Linked DNA regions of Homo sapiens: regions 1 and 2 are each linked to region 3. The links come from fine-mapping of genetic effects on gene expression. A gene starts in region 3. Each other region holds a variant in brackets. All regions are shown on one strand. Distances are from middle to middle.

Region 1 (4,000 bases), 42 kb before region 3:
GTCTTGAACTCTTGGTCTCGAGCGATCCACCTAGCTCGATGTCCCAAAGTGTTGGAATTACAGGCGTGAGCCACTGCGCCCGGCCAGAAATGACTTTTAGATTGCCTGCCCTCTGGAGCCGTCTGACCCTGTTCTTCAGCAGGAGTTACCGTGAGTCCGATTGTTTCCTGAGTAGCAGATGGAGCAGAAGAACTTCATGCCATGCAGGGAAGACTTCCCATATGATAGATGTTTTAATGCAGGTTTGAAAGAAAAGAAGGGATGTAAATTAATCAATAACCGAGATTTTGTTTTTCTGTCTTGTAGCTGGAAAAGGATTTTGGTCTGAGATGCTGGGCGTGGGGGACTTCTATTACGAACTAGGTGTCCAAATTATCGAAGTGTGCCTGGCGCTGAAGCATCGGAATGGAGGTGAGGGTGGCTAGGTCCTGTGAACTGGACTCTGGACTTCTCTGAGAGGGAGAAAACCGTAAAAGATTATCGTTTCCATCCTGCAGTCTACAGGCCTCTAAGGACTTGAGAGACATCTTAGCTGTTTCATGCAGTTGAATCCATGGCAAGTCTCCATGGCCAAGGGTAAATAGAATTACCTGAACGATTGTCTCTGTTCTCCAAAGATCTTTGGCCAGGAAGGTCTAGTCCCTAGTCAGTACAGAAAATAGTAGAGAGGTAGGAAGTAGGCCTTTTCCCCTGATGTCTGATGTGTCTGGAGTGATTTTCTCATTAGTAACTATAGTCCTGCACTGTCTCTCCGACGTATGGGAATGCCAACTGAGTCTGTGTTCCCTAAAATGTGACCTTAAAATTTGTCATCTGGTGATGCCATCTTTCTTAGTAAGCACGTTAAATGGTGTGGATTGAAGTTACAGAAAGAAAACTTAAAACCATTTACAAATCATCATCAACTATAAATAGACACGGCCTTGATGTCAAGAGGACATTTATAGTTTTTCAAAGATGATACTGCTTTTGTTTTTAGATTTTCGTAGCTCTCTGTTGACAGGCCTAGCAAGGTCTCAGAATCCATTTCTCATATTATGGTCAGTTATTTCATAAGGAGAGTGTTAAAAAAAAATTAGGAACTAGAATGTTATTTGCTACTTGTAGGCCACTGGAATTGTAATGACTGTCAACTTATTTAAAGTGGGTAATCTCTTTTTCTGATTTCTGTTCCCTGTCTCCAAACAGGTCTGATAACTTTGGAGGAACTACATCAACAGGTGTTGAAGGGAAGGGGCAAGTTCGCCCAGGATGTCAGTCAGTAGGTCTTGTCTTCCAATCCCTTGGAGTACAGAAAGAGGTCTTTAAAATTCAGATGGAACTCTTTTCTCCCTATTCCTCATGTCTAGGCTAGCTTAGAAATCTGTATGATCTCCATATCATACAGGAAAAAAAAAAACAAAAAACAAACAAAAAATAAGAGATAGGGTCTCACTTTTGCCCGGGCTGGAGTACAGTGGCATGATCACAGCTTACTGCTACCAAGATCATTGCTTACTGCAGCCTCAAACTCTTGGGCTCAAGTAATCCTCCCACCTCAGCCTCCCAAGTAGTTGGGATTATAGGCATGGGCCAGTATGGCTGGCTATTTTTAGAAAACAGAAAATATAGATTTAAAAAAGGAAACAAAAACCATTATTTCTCAATTAAGAGATTACAACTGCTATATATTTTAATGTAGTTCCTTCTAAGCATTTTTTCATGTATTATTTTTTAACAAACTTGGGGCTATATATAGTCTTTTTTTTCTTTGAGAAAGAGTCTTGCTGTCACCCAGGCTGGAGTGCAGTGACCCGATCTTAGCTCACTGCAACCTCTGCCTTCTGGGTTCAAGCAATTCTCGTGCCACAGTCTCCCCAGTAACTGGAATTACAGGTGTGCACCACCATGCCCGGCTAATTTTTTTTTTTTTTTTTTTGAGACAGAGTCTCACTCTGTCGCCCAGGCTGGAGTGCAGTGGCGTGATCTCTGCTCACTGCAAGCTCTGCCTCCTGGGTTCACGCCATTCTCCTGCCTCAGCCTCCCGAGTAGCTGGGACTACAGGCGCCCGCCACCACGCCCGGCTAATTTTTTGTATTTTTAGTAGAGACGGGGTTTCACTGTGTTAGCCAGGATGGTCTCGATCTCCTGACCTCGTGATCCACCCGCCTCAGCCTCCCAAAGTGCTGGGATTACAGGTGTCTGCCACCGCGCCTGGCCGCCTGGCTAATTTTTGTATTTTTAGTAGTGATGGGGTTTCAC[G/C]TTGTTGGCCAGGCTGGTTTTGAACTCCTGGCCTCAAGTGATCTGCCTGCCTCAGCTTCCCAAAGTGCTGGGATTACAGGTGTGAGACACCACGGCTGGCCAGGGCTGTATATAGTCGTGAGATTATTTGAGGCCAAGGAGAGTAGTGTAGGTGCCTAGAAAGGCTGGGGAAGGAGGTGGTAGTGAGATGATGGAATATAAATTGATCTAGTTCTCCAGCCTCTATGTGCGAGTCCAGTTTGAGAAAAGATAAAAGGCTGTTTTTGATGTAACTTCCAAAGAGTCAGCCTACTATGAGATCTTGAAGACCTAGAATATTCAAAGAAAAGTAACGAGGCTGGGTGCAATAGCTTACACCTGTAATCCTAGCCCTTTGGGAGGCTGAGGTGGGAGGATCGCTTGAGGACAGGAGTTCGAGACCAGTCTGGGCAGTGTAGTGAGACCTTGTCTCTACAAAAAATAAAATTAGTTGGGTGTTGAGGCATGCACTCATTGTTCTAGGCTGCAGTGAGCTATGATTGCACCACTGCACTCCAGCCTGGGATATAGAGCAAGACGTCATCTCTACTTTTTTTTTTTGTTTTTTGAAATGGACTCTTGCTCTGTTGTCTAGGCTGGAGCGCAGTGGTACAATCTCGGCTCACTGCAACCTCCGCCTCCTGGGTTCAAATGATTCTTCTGCCTCAGCCTCCTGAGTAGCTGGGATTACAGGTACCTGCCACTGGCGCCCTGCTAGTTCTTGTATTTTTAGTGGAGATGGGGTTTCACCATGTTGGCTAGGCTGGTCTCGAACTCTCGGCCTCCCAAAATGCTGGGATTACAGGCGTGAGCCACCGCGCCCAGCCAAGACCTCATCTCCTAAAAAAAAAAAAAAGGAAAGTGATAACAAAAGATTACTAGCCATACTCATTGCAGATTTCATGAAGAGAGGGTGAGCATTTGAAGCATTTCAGTTTGCTATTCTTTGGGGGTTGGAGAATGCATTCCAATCTACCTAAAAGTGCCCTTTCCCTGGCTGTTTGGGTGATAACATTTTTTGAGCTTTGGCAGAGGTTTTAAACTCTGTATGTGGGCTGGATATGTGATCTACACACTGTTTTGTAGGTTTTCTTTTTCTCTGATTTCAATTAGAATCAGAAAACTTGGCAGTATTGGGTTTGAATTGCCACTTGGCAATAATAGTCAGCTGGGTTGCCCCCTTTAAAATAGATAAGCATTCTCTAGTTTGCCACAGGTGACACTACCCCCATTGCCTCTTCAGCTCACTCATTCACATTTCCTGATGGGCATCTGCAGGTGTATCTTTGACCGCTGTCTGGATGTTGGAATGAGTGGTTCGCTGAGCAGACAGCCTGACTCCTGTGTATCTCCCATGATTGTCCAAGCATCACTTATTGCTCCTTGACCCTGTCTTTTTACTGACGTAGTTGAGTGTTGTGCAGCCTTTTATTTTAGAGGCAGGGTCTCGCTCTGTCACCCAGGCTGGAGTACAGTGGTGCACAATCACAGCTCACTGCAGCCTTGAACTCCTGGGCTCAAGTGATCCTCCTGCCTCAGCCTCCCAAGGATTATAGGCGATTGCCACCATGCCCTGCTAATTTTTTATTTTTAGTAAAGATAAGGTCTTGCTGTGTTGCCCAGGCTGGTCTCTAACCCCTGGGCTCAAGCAGTCTTCTCAATGTGGGCATCCCAAAAGTGTTGCGATTATGGGTATGAGCCATTGCGCCTGGCAGTTGTGCAGTCTTCTAAATTTTCTGTC
Region 2 (4,000 bases), 58 kb before region 3:
GAGCTGAAAGAAACCTTAGAGGTCAACTGGAGGCTGAGTGCGGTGGCTCACGCCTGTAATCCCAGTATTTAGGGAGGCCAAGGTGAGAGGATGGCTTGAGCCCAGGAGATCAAGACCAGCCAGGGAAACAAAGCCAGACCTTGTCTCTATGACAATTTAAAAAAATTAACCAGGCATGGTGGCATGCATCTGTAGTCCCAGCTGCTTGAAAGGCTGAGGCCACAGGATCCCTTAAGCCCAGGAGTTCGAGGTTACAATGAGCTATGATGGCACCACCGCATTCCAGCCTGTGTGACATAGTGAGACCCTGTCTCCAAAAAAAATAAAAATAAAAATAAAAGACCATGTTCTAGCCGGGCGCAGTGTCTCGCGCCTGTAATCCCAGCACTTTGGGAGGCCGAGGCAGGTGGATCACCTGAGGTCAGGAGTTCGAGACCAGCCTAACCAACATGGAGAGACCCCATCTCTACTAAAAATGCAAAGTTAGCCGGGCGTGGGGGCGCATGACTGTGGTCCCAGCTACTCAGGAGGCTGAGGCAGGAGAATCGCTTGAACCCAGGAGGCGGAGGTTGCGGTGAGGCGAGATTGCACCATTACACTCCAGCCTGGGCAACAAAAGCGAAACTCCGTGCCCCTCCCCGCAAAAAGACCATGTTCTTAGCCACCCTGCCACGAAGCCAATGAGTCACTTAAAGCAAACGAGGGATTCCATAATGGTCAGCATTCAGTGATGTGCTGGAAGCAGGCACAGTGGCGAGTGCCTTGTCCCATCTACTTGAGAGACTGAGGCAGGAGGATCACTTAAGCCCAGTTGTTCAAAGCTGTAGTGCCCTGTGATGGCACCTGTGAATAGCCACCGTACACCATCCTGGCAACATATCAAGCCCATGATCAGAGTATTTACACCATGGAGATAGGCAAATGCTACAAATCAGGGTTCCCCTCTCCCAACCTGGCAAGGTAGTTGTTAAACCCTTACCAGGATATCACTGGTCAGCATATTTTCCCTAAAATTATAAAACGGTACAAAGGTATCTGCATAGGAGGATGAGCATGTCTGCCTGAGTGTGGCTACACTCAGCATAGCCATTGAGGTCCATTTCGTGCATCTAAGGGACTAGGCATAGCCAGGCATGGTGGCTAACGCCTGTAATCCCGCACTTTGGGAAGCCAAGGCAGGTGGATCACCTGAGGTTAGGAGTTCAAGACCAGCCTGGCCAATGTGGTAAAACCTTGTCTCTACTAAAAAGCCAAAATTAGCCGGCCATGGTTGCGAGCGCCTGTAGTCCCAGCTACTTGGGAGGTTGAGGCAGGAGAATCTCTTGAACCCAGGAGGCAGAGGTTGCAGTAAGCTGAGATCACGCCACTGCACTCCAGCCTGGGCAACAGGAGCGAAACTCGGTTTCAAAAAAAAAAAAAGTCCAGGCGCAGTGGCTCATGCTTGTAATCCCAGCACTCTGGGAGGCCGAGGCGGGCGGATCACCTGAGATCAGGAGTTCAAGACCAGCCTGACCACCATGGAGAAACCCCGTCTCTAATAAAAATACAAAAACTTGGCCAGGCTTGGTGGCACATGCCTGTAATCCCAGCTACTCCGGAGGCTGAGGTAGGAGAATAGCTTGAACCCAGGAGGCAGAAGTTGCAGTGAGC[T/C]GAGATCGCACCATTGCACTCCAGCCCAGGCAACAACAGCGAAACTCCATCACAAAAAAAAAAAAAAAAAAAAGGGACTAGGCATGTGTGTATGCATTTGAAGGCATGAATGATTAAATCTAAGGTCTTCACTGTGAGCGAGCGGATCAGTGTGTATACCTTAGGGCACTGTATAATGAGTCAAAGAGTAAGGGAGGAAGCAGGTATATCTAGATGGTGTCAGTGAGTACCTATGGGACCAAGTTTTGTGTTTGGAAGCTATGTAGTTAAGACCTCATATGATGGCTGGGGGTGGTGGCTCATGCATGGTATCTCAGCACTTTGGGAGGCCAAGGTGGGTGGATCACTTGAGGTTGGGAGTTTGAAACCAGCCTGGCCAACGTGGCGAAACCCTGTCTTTACTAAAAATACACAAATTAGCCAGGTGTGATGATGTGCGCCTGTAGTCCCAGCTACCCGGGAGGCTAAGGCAGGAGAATTGCTTGAACCCGGGAGGCAGAGGTTGCAGTGAGCTGAGATCATGCCATTGCACTCCAGCCTGGGCAACAGAGGAAGACTCTGTCTCAAAAAAAAAAACAAAAAACAAAACAAAACAAAAGGCCGGGCGCAGAGGCTCACGCCTGTAATCCTAGCGCTTTGGGAGGCCGAGGCGGGCAGATTGCCTGAGCTCAGGAGTTCCAGACCAGCCTGGGTAACATGGTAAAACCTCGTCTTTACTAAAGCACAAAATATTAGCTGGGCATGGCAGTGTGCACGGTAGTCCCAGCTACGTAGGAGGCTGAGACAGAATTGCTTGAACCCAGGAGGTGGAAGTTGCAGTGAGCCGAGATTGCGCCACTGCACTCTAGCCTGGGCAACAGAGCGAGATTCCGTCTCCAAAAAAACAAAAAAAAAATTAGATTTGGCAGCTGGGCAAGATGGCTGACGCCTGTAATCCCAGCAGTTTGGGAGGCCAAGGCGGGTGGATCACTTGAGGTTAGGAGTTCAAGACCAGCCTGGCCAACAGGGGTGAAACCCTGTCCCTACTAAAACTACAGAAATTAGTCGGGCATGGTGGCAGCTACTCGGAAGGCTGATGCAGGAGAATCGCTTAAACCCAGGAGGCAGAGATTGTAGTGAGCTGAGATTGTGCTACTGCACTCCAGCCTGGGCAACAAAGGGAAACTCCATCTAAAAAAAAAAAAAAAAAAAAAAAAGCCAGACGCGGTGGCTTATACCTGTAATCCCAGCACTTTGGGAGGCCAAGGTAGGCGGATCACCAGAGATCGGGAGTTCGAGACTAGCCTGACCAACATGGAGAAGCCCCATCTCTACTAAAAATACAGAATTAGCTGGGTGTGATGGCGCATTCCTGGAATCCCAGCTACTTGGGCGGCTGAGGCAGGAGAACTGCTTGAATCCGGGAGGCAGAGGTTGCGGTGAGCTGAGATCGCGCCATTGCACTCCAGCCTGGGCAACAAGAGCAAAACACCATCTCAAAAGGAAAAAAAAAAAAAGAAGAGATAGATTTGGCTTCAAATAACAGGAAAACACAAAATAATAGTGGCTTCAGTAAGACAGGACATTATTTCTCTTTCTCATAAACACTCAATACTTACCTGGCAGGGGAGATACCATGATCCTGAAGGTGGTTTTCCTAGGGCGAGGCTCATCCATTGCACTCCGGATGTGCCGACTCGCGATTTCCCCAAATGTGGGAAACTCGACTGCGTAATTTGTGGTAGCGGTGGACTGCGTTTGCGCTCTAGTAAAATTAAAAATAAAAAAAAAAAAAATAGGCTGGGCTCACGCCTATAATCCTACCACTTTGGGAGGCCAAGGCGGGCGGACTGCCTGAGCTCAGGAGTTCAAGACCAGCCTGGGCAACATGGTGAAACCCCGTCTCTACTAAAATACAAAAAAAAAAAAAAAAAAAAAATAGCTGGGTATGGTGGTGTGCTCCTGTAGTCCTAGCTACTCGGGAGGCTGAGGCAGAATTGCGTGAACCCAAGAGGCAGAGGTTGCAGTGAGCCAAGATCGTGCCACTGCACTCTAGCCTGGCGACAGAGCAAGACTCTGTCTCAAAATAAATAAATAAATAAACACTCAGAGATTGGTGGCCTAGGGCTAGTATGACAGTCTGCTCTGTAAAATCCTTAGGGATCGAAGCTCATTGGACTCATGGTTCCACCATTCCTCTAGGTCCAAAATGGCAGCTACATGTCTTGCCATCAACCTTTGCTCTCATCCTCTTTTTATCATTTTACTTGAAACCTTCCTAGTAAAATTCACATTCATGATTTCACTGTGTTGATTCCAAAACTGTAACTCAGTCCAGCTCTTTTTATTTTTATTTTTTGAGGCGGGGTCT
Region 3 (4,000 bases):
TCTGGCCACCTGGAGTGGGAAGTTGCTGTAGGAAGGCTAGAAAGAGAAGCAAGGCAGGCGAGATAGCAGAGAGATAGTATGGCATAAGGACAGGTGGCTGACTCTACCTCCTTCACCCCACCCACCTGAGCTCTGAAACTGTTGGCAAACTGCCTGGTAAATGCAGAATACTCTGATTGCAGAGTATGCTGGGAATTAGTCTTAGAGTCTGTTGTCAGACAGCAGACAGGACTAGGGAAATTTCATGGGTTAGGCACACCTCACTTTTATAAGTTTCTTACCTACAAGGCTTACCTTGGGGGACTTAGAACTATTAAAGCATACAGATTCTCCAACTCTCCTCCCACTTTGGTCTAAAGGCAACTTAAGCTGAAGGACCCCTGTCTGGGAACATTCCTTGATTTAAAAAAAATTAATTAATGGGTTTTTATGAGTCAGGGTCTTGCTCTGTCACCCAGTCTGGAGTGCAGTGGCATAGTCACAGCAGTCTCGACCTCTGGGATTAACCAATCCTCTCATCTCAGCCCTGGAGTAACTGGGACTACAGCCACATGCCACCACACATGGCTAATTTTTTTATTTTTTTTGTAGAGATGGGGTTTCACTGTGTTGCCCAGGCTGGTCTTGAACAACTGGGCTCAAGTGATCCTCTCGCCTCAGCCTCTCAAAGAGCTGGGATTACAGGTGTGAGCCACCATCCTGGGCCTTGGGAACATTCCTAAGAGAGCTATTCCTCCCTTACCTGTTTAGATGAATTCACTGGGCTATTCAAGAAGGAGGCAGACACAGGCCTGATTAGACCCCTGGTACAACAGCGGATCTGTAAAATCAGAAAGCCACATCCTACCAAATCAGTCAAGGAAAAAAAATCCTAATTGCTGAGCTGTCAAAAATGACTACAGATTTCATAAACAGAATAAGTTCAATGTATTTCAAGGTCAATTTATTCCTGTTCCTATCAGATAGGCCTGCCCCAGAGACAGCTGTCTCAATAGCTTGATATAGTCAGCAGTGGCAACCTTCACCATTCAAAACCAAACCAAAGTTCACTTCTTTGGGCACAGCTTTAATCAGCTTCTCAGAATGGAACAAGAACCCACACTAATACCAAAGCAGGTACAGGAAAGGTTTATACCCAGATCACCAAGTAATCAGATGGGGGAAATTTTATTCTGCTAAAATACACTCACAGCTACACACCCTAAATGGAGTGGGCCAGTCAGCCCCGGAAACCGACTGGAATAGCCATCCAAGGAGAGCCATCTGTAACATGGCTTTTTTGAAATAATTTTTAGTGCAGTGGTTCTCAAACTTGGCTGCACGGTGGAATCATCTGGAGAAGTCTTAAAAGATACAGATGCCTGGGTTCCACCCCCATTCCCAAAGTCTGATGCAAATGGTCTAAGGTGCAGCCTAGGCATCAGGATTTTAAAAAGTTCCCTGGATGATTCTAACGTGCAGCCACTGTTGAAAACCACTGTTTTAGTGGGCTGTCTCTATGGCCAGGACAGACTGGGGATAAAAATCAAATCCAGACTCTCTGACCACATTCCAAAGCCAAGATAGCTTGGTTCACAGGCCCAGATAAACAGGGGTTACCTTCATCACATCCTACAGCCACCTCAAAGAGCCTACATCATCAGGACGCCAAGCTCCCCTGGGTTCATTCATTAAACACTGATGGCGTCCACACCATACACCTGGTACTACAGAGCACTGCGGCGCGGCACCTTACCAGAGCTGGAGAAATGAATAATGCCCCGGCGGTCTGCATTTTTTCAGTCTGCAGAGGGGGAAAAAATAGTAATAATAATCCCACTGAGACCCTGGTTGTTTGCTTATAATGACGACCTTTGGTCGTCCCCTTCACCCCCGTCCGTCCTCCCTAGACCACGCTCTTCCTTGCACCGTGCCCCAGCTGAGGAGGGCATTAGAGGTCAGAGGGACAGAGCAGTGGGTCTTCAAAGCAAAGTCATGGAGATCGGAAGTCAAGGAAATGTGCCCAAGCCCCAGGAAGGAAATGTTGCGAAAGGGAATGGTCTCTCGGGAAGACTGGAGGCGGATACTGGGCAGGTGTCGCGCAGGATCCTGCCCATCTTACACAGCAGTCCCCGACCCGCCCCAGCCGAGGCAGTCAATCGTTCATTACCGTTGGTAATTAACATTCATTGATAAGGCCATATCTAGATTGCCATAGCCTCTCCCAGCACTGGGGGGAAATACCCCTCCACACTGCCCAGCCCACAACCCTGCCTATTGCTGGCTCCCGGCCCCAAGTCACCTGCACTCCTACTACCCTGCAACCCCTGCTTGGCCCACAGCGCTCGCCCGGCTCAAGGTGACAGACTCACCTCCCAGCTTTAGCCCTTGGTCTCAGCGCTCAGCTTCCCCCACCCACGTGTCCTGGACCTTCTCCATTCTCATTGGCCGTAATATCCCCGCGTCCCCATTGGTTGACGTCATCGATTCCCCACTCTTATTGGCTTTCCGCAGCTGCTTCCTCTCCCTCCACAGGAGCTTCGTGGCAATTCCCGCCTCCATGCGGATAGAGGCGGGGCTTTCCTACGAGATCTGGATTACGATTGGCCGATCCCTGAAACGCTCGACCATAGAGTTGGCGGGACTCAGAGGTTCCATAACCTCGCGCACAAGATGGCGACCAAGGTGTACGCTGAAGAAAAAGGCGTGGGAGAGATGACGGGACGTGTGACGCAGTCAGACACATGACTTTGGCCCCGAGCCTTCATTCGGGCGCTTGGGCCACGGGGCGCGTTGCATGTTGGGATTGGTAGTTGCGCTGAGGGGGGGGGCCCAAGGACAGCTGAGATCCCGCGAGATATTCTAGGCCGGGAGAGCCGATGCCTTTGCAGTAATTCCCACCGTGGAGGTTTGTGGAAAGACCGCTTTCCATGGAGAGTAAAGGCCGGCTGGAAAGTCCCCAAGCGGTGAGCGCAGTTTTGTGGACCTCAGCCGGTGTTCAGCAGTCATGGACTATCATCCAGATGGCTTTCTAAAACATTTGTTGGGCCGGGTGCAGTGGCTCACGCCTGTAATCCCAGCACTTTGGGAGGCCGAGGCGGGCGGATCACCTGAGGTCAGGAGTTCGAGATCAGCCTGACCAGCATGGTGAAACCCCGTCTCTACTAAGAATACAAAAATTAGCCGGGCATGGTGGTGGCGCGTGCCTGTAATCCCAGCTACTTGGGAGGCTGAGGCAGGAGAATCGCTTGAACCCGGGAGGCCGAGGTTGCAGGGAGCCGAGATCGCGCCACTGCACTCCAGCCTGGGCAACTGAGCAGGATTCCGTCTCGGGGGAAAAAACAAACAAAAAAATTGTTTATTTTGTAAAAACAACACTGAAAGAATGAAATAATATCCCTATAGAAAAACGAGCAAAGGATAGGAACAGGCAATTCAGTAAGGAAGAAATATGAATTGCAGGAACGAATGTCAGCCTTCCTAATCAAAGAAATATAAGTTTAAACGCTCCGCTTAGTACTGCTCAAAACAGCAGAGTTCTTTTTATTAATGTGAGCCACACGCTCTCCTATATTGCTGGTGAGAGGATGAATTAGAAAACCTTCCTTGAAAGCAGTTTGGCAATATTTATTTTTATTCAAAGGCTGTGAATGGGCCATCCTCTTTGACCCAGTAATTCTTGAGTAACTAAGAGCCTTTAAGCTCTCCATCCACTTTTCATCCAGTAATATCACTTCTAGGAATTTATTTTGAAGAATCAGAAATGCAGATTCTTTTAAAAAGATGTGCATTTGCAGAGTTTGTCGAAATTGGAAACAAGTAAATGTTCCACTGACAGTAAAAGGTGAAATAAGTTATGATATTTTCACTTGATGAAATAAGCAGAAATAAAACAGGAAATAAAATCATGTGTTTTTTTTGAGACGGAGTCTCGCTCTGTTGCCAAGCTGGAGTGCAGCGGCGCTATCTCGGCTCACTGCAAGCTCCGCCTCCCGGGTTCACGCCATTCTCCTGCCTCAGC

Which allele goes with the higher level. Alleles are on the strand shown, and positions count from the first base shown. SD is a standard deviation of normalised expression in the study named.
With allele G in place of C in region 1, the expression in hippocampus of the gene that starts at base 2,405 in region 3 is lower (small effect, 0.20 SD a copy in GTEx).
For the expression in lymphoblastoid cells of the gene that starts at base 2,405 in region 3, T is the low allele of the variant in region 2 and C is the other (small effect, 0.13 SD a copy in GTEx).

Evidence for each region. PIP is the estimated chance that this variant, and not a neighbour inherited with it, causes the effect. A credible set is the group of variants that fine-mapping cannot tell apart.
Region 1: its variant is the best candidate, but not a certain one, in a credible set for the expression of ATP5MC1 in hippocampus (GTEx, PIP 0.58).
Region 2: its variant is the best candidate, but not a certain one, in a credible set for the expression of ATP5MC1 in lymphoblastoid cells (GTEx, PIP 0.83).

Annotation. Positions count from the first base shown.
Region 1 is chr17:48,933,431-48,937,430 of GRCh38, reverse strand. It overlaps SNF8 (SNF8 subunit of ESCRT-II), which reads left to right. Exons shown (of 8, transcript NM_007241.4): 4 at 307-411; 5 at 1,189-1,261. Among named protein-coding and RNA genes, the nearest start is that of SNF8, 9.4 kb to the left of the region's middle. The variant G/C (reference allele first, on the strand shown) is at 2,242.
Region 2 is chr17:48,948,761-48,952,760 of GRCh38, reverse strand. It overlaps the pseudogene RNU1-42P. Among named protein-coding and RNA genes, the nearest start is that of SNF8, 5.9 kb to the right of the region's middle. The variant T/C (reference allele first, on the strand shown) is at 1,651.
Region 3 is chr17:48,891,192-48,895,191 of GRCh38, reverse strand. It overlaps ATP5MC1 (ATP synthase membrane subunit c locus 1), which reads right to left and starts at 2,405. Exons shown (of 5, transcript NM_005175.3): 1 at 2,282-2,405; 2 at 1,736-1,783; 3 at 743-820; 4 at 1-36. The coding sequence starts at 1,774. LOC105371814 (a long non-coding RNA gene) reads left to right here. Exons shown (of 4, transcript NR_135674.1): 2 at 2,515-2,945. RefSeq lists enhancers at 1,603-1,652, 1,693-1,802, 2,383-2,502, 2,513-2,972, 2,610-3,589.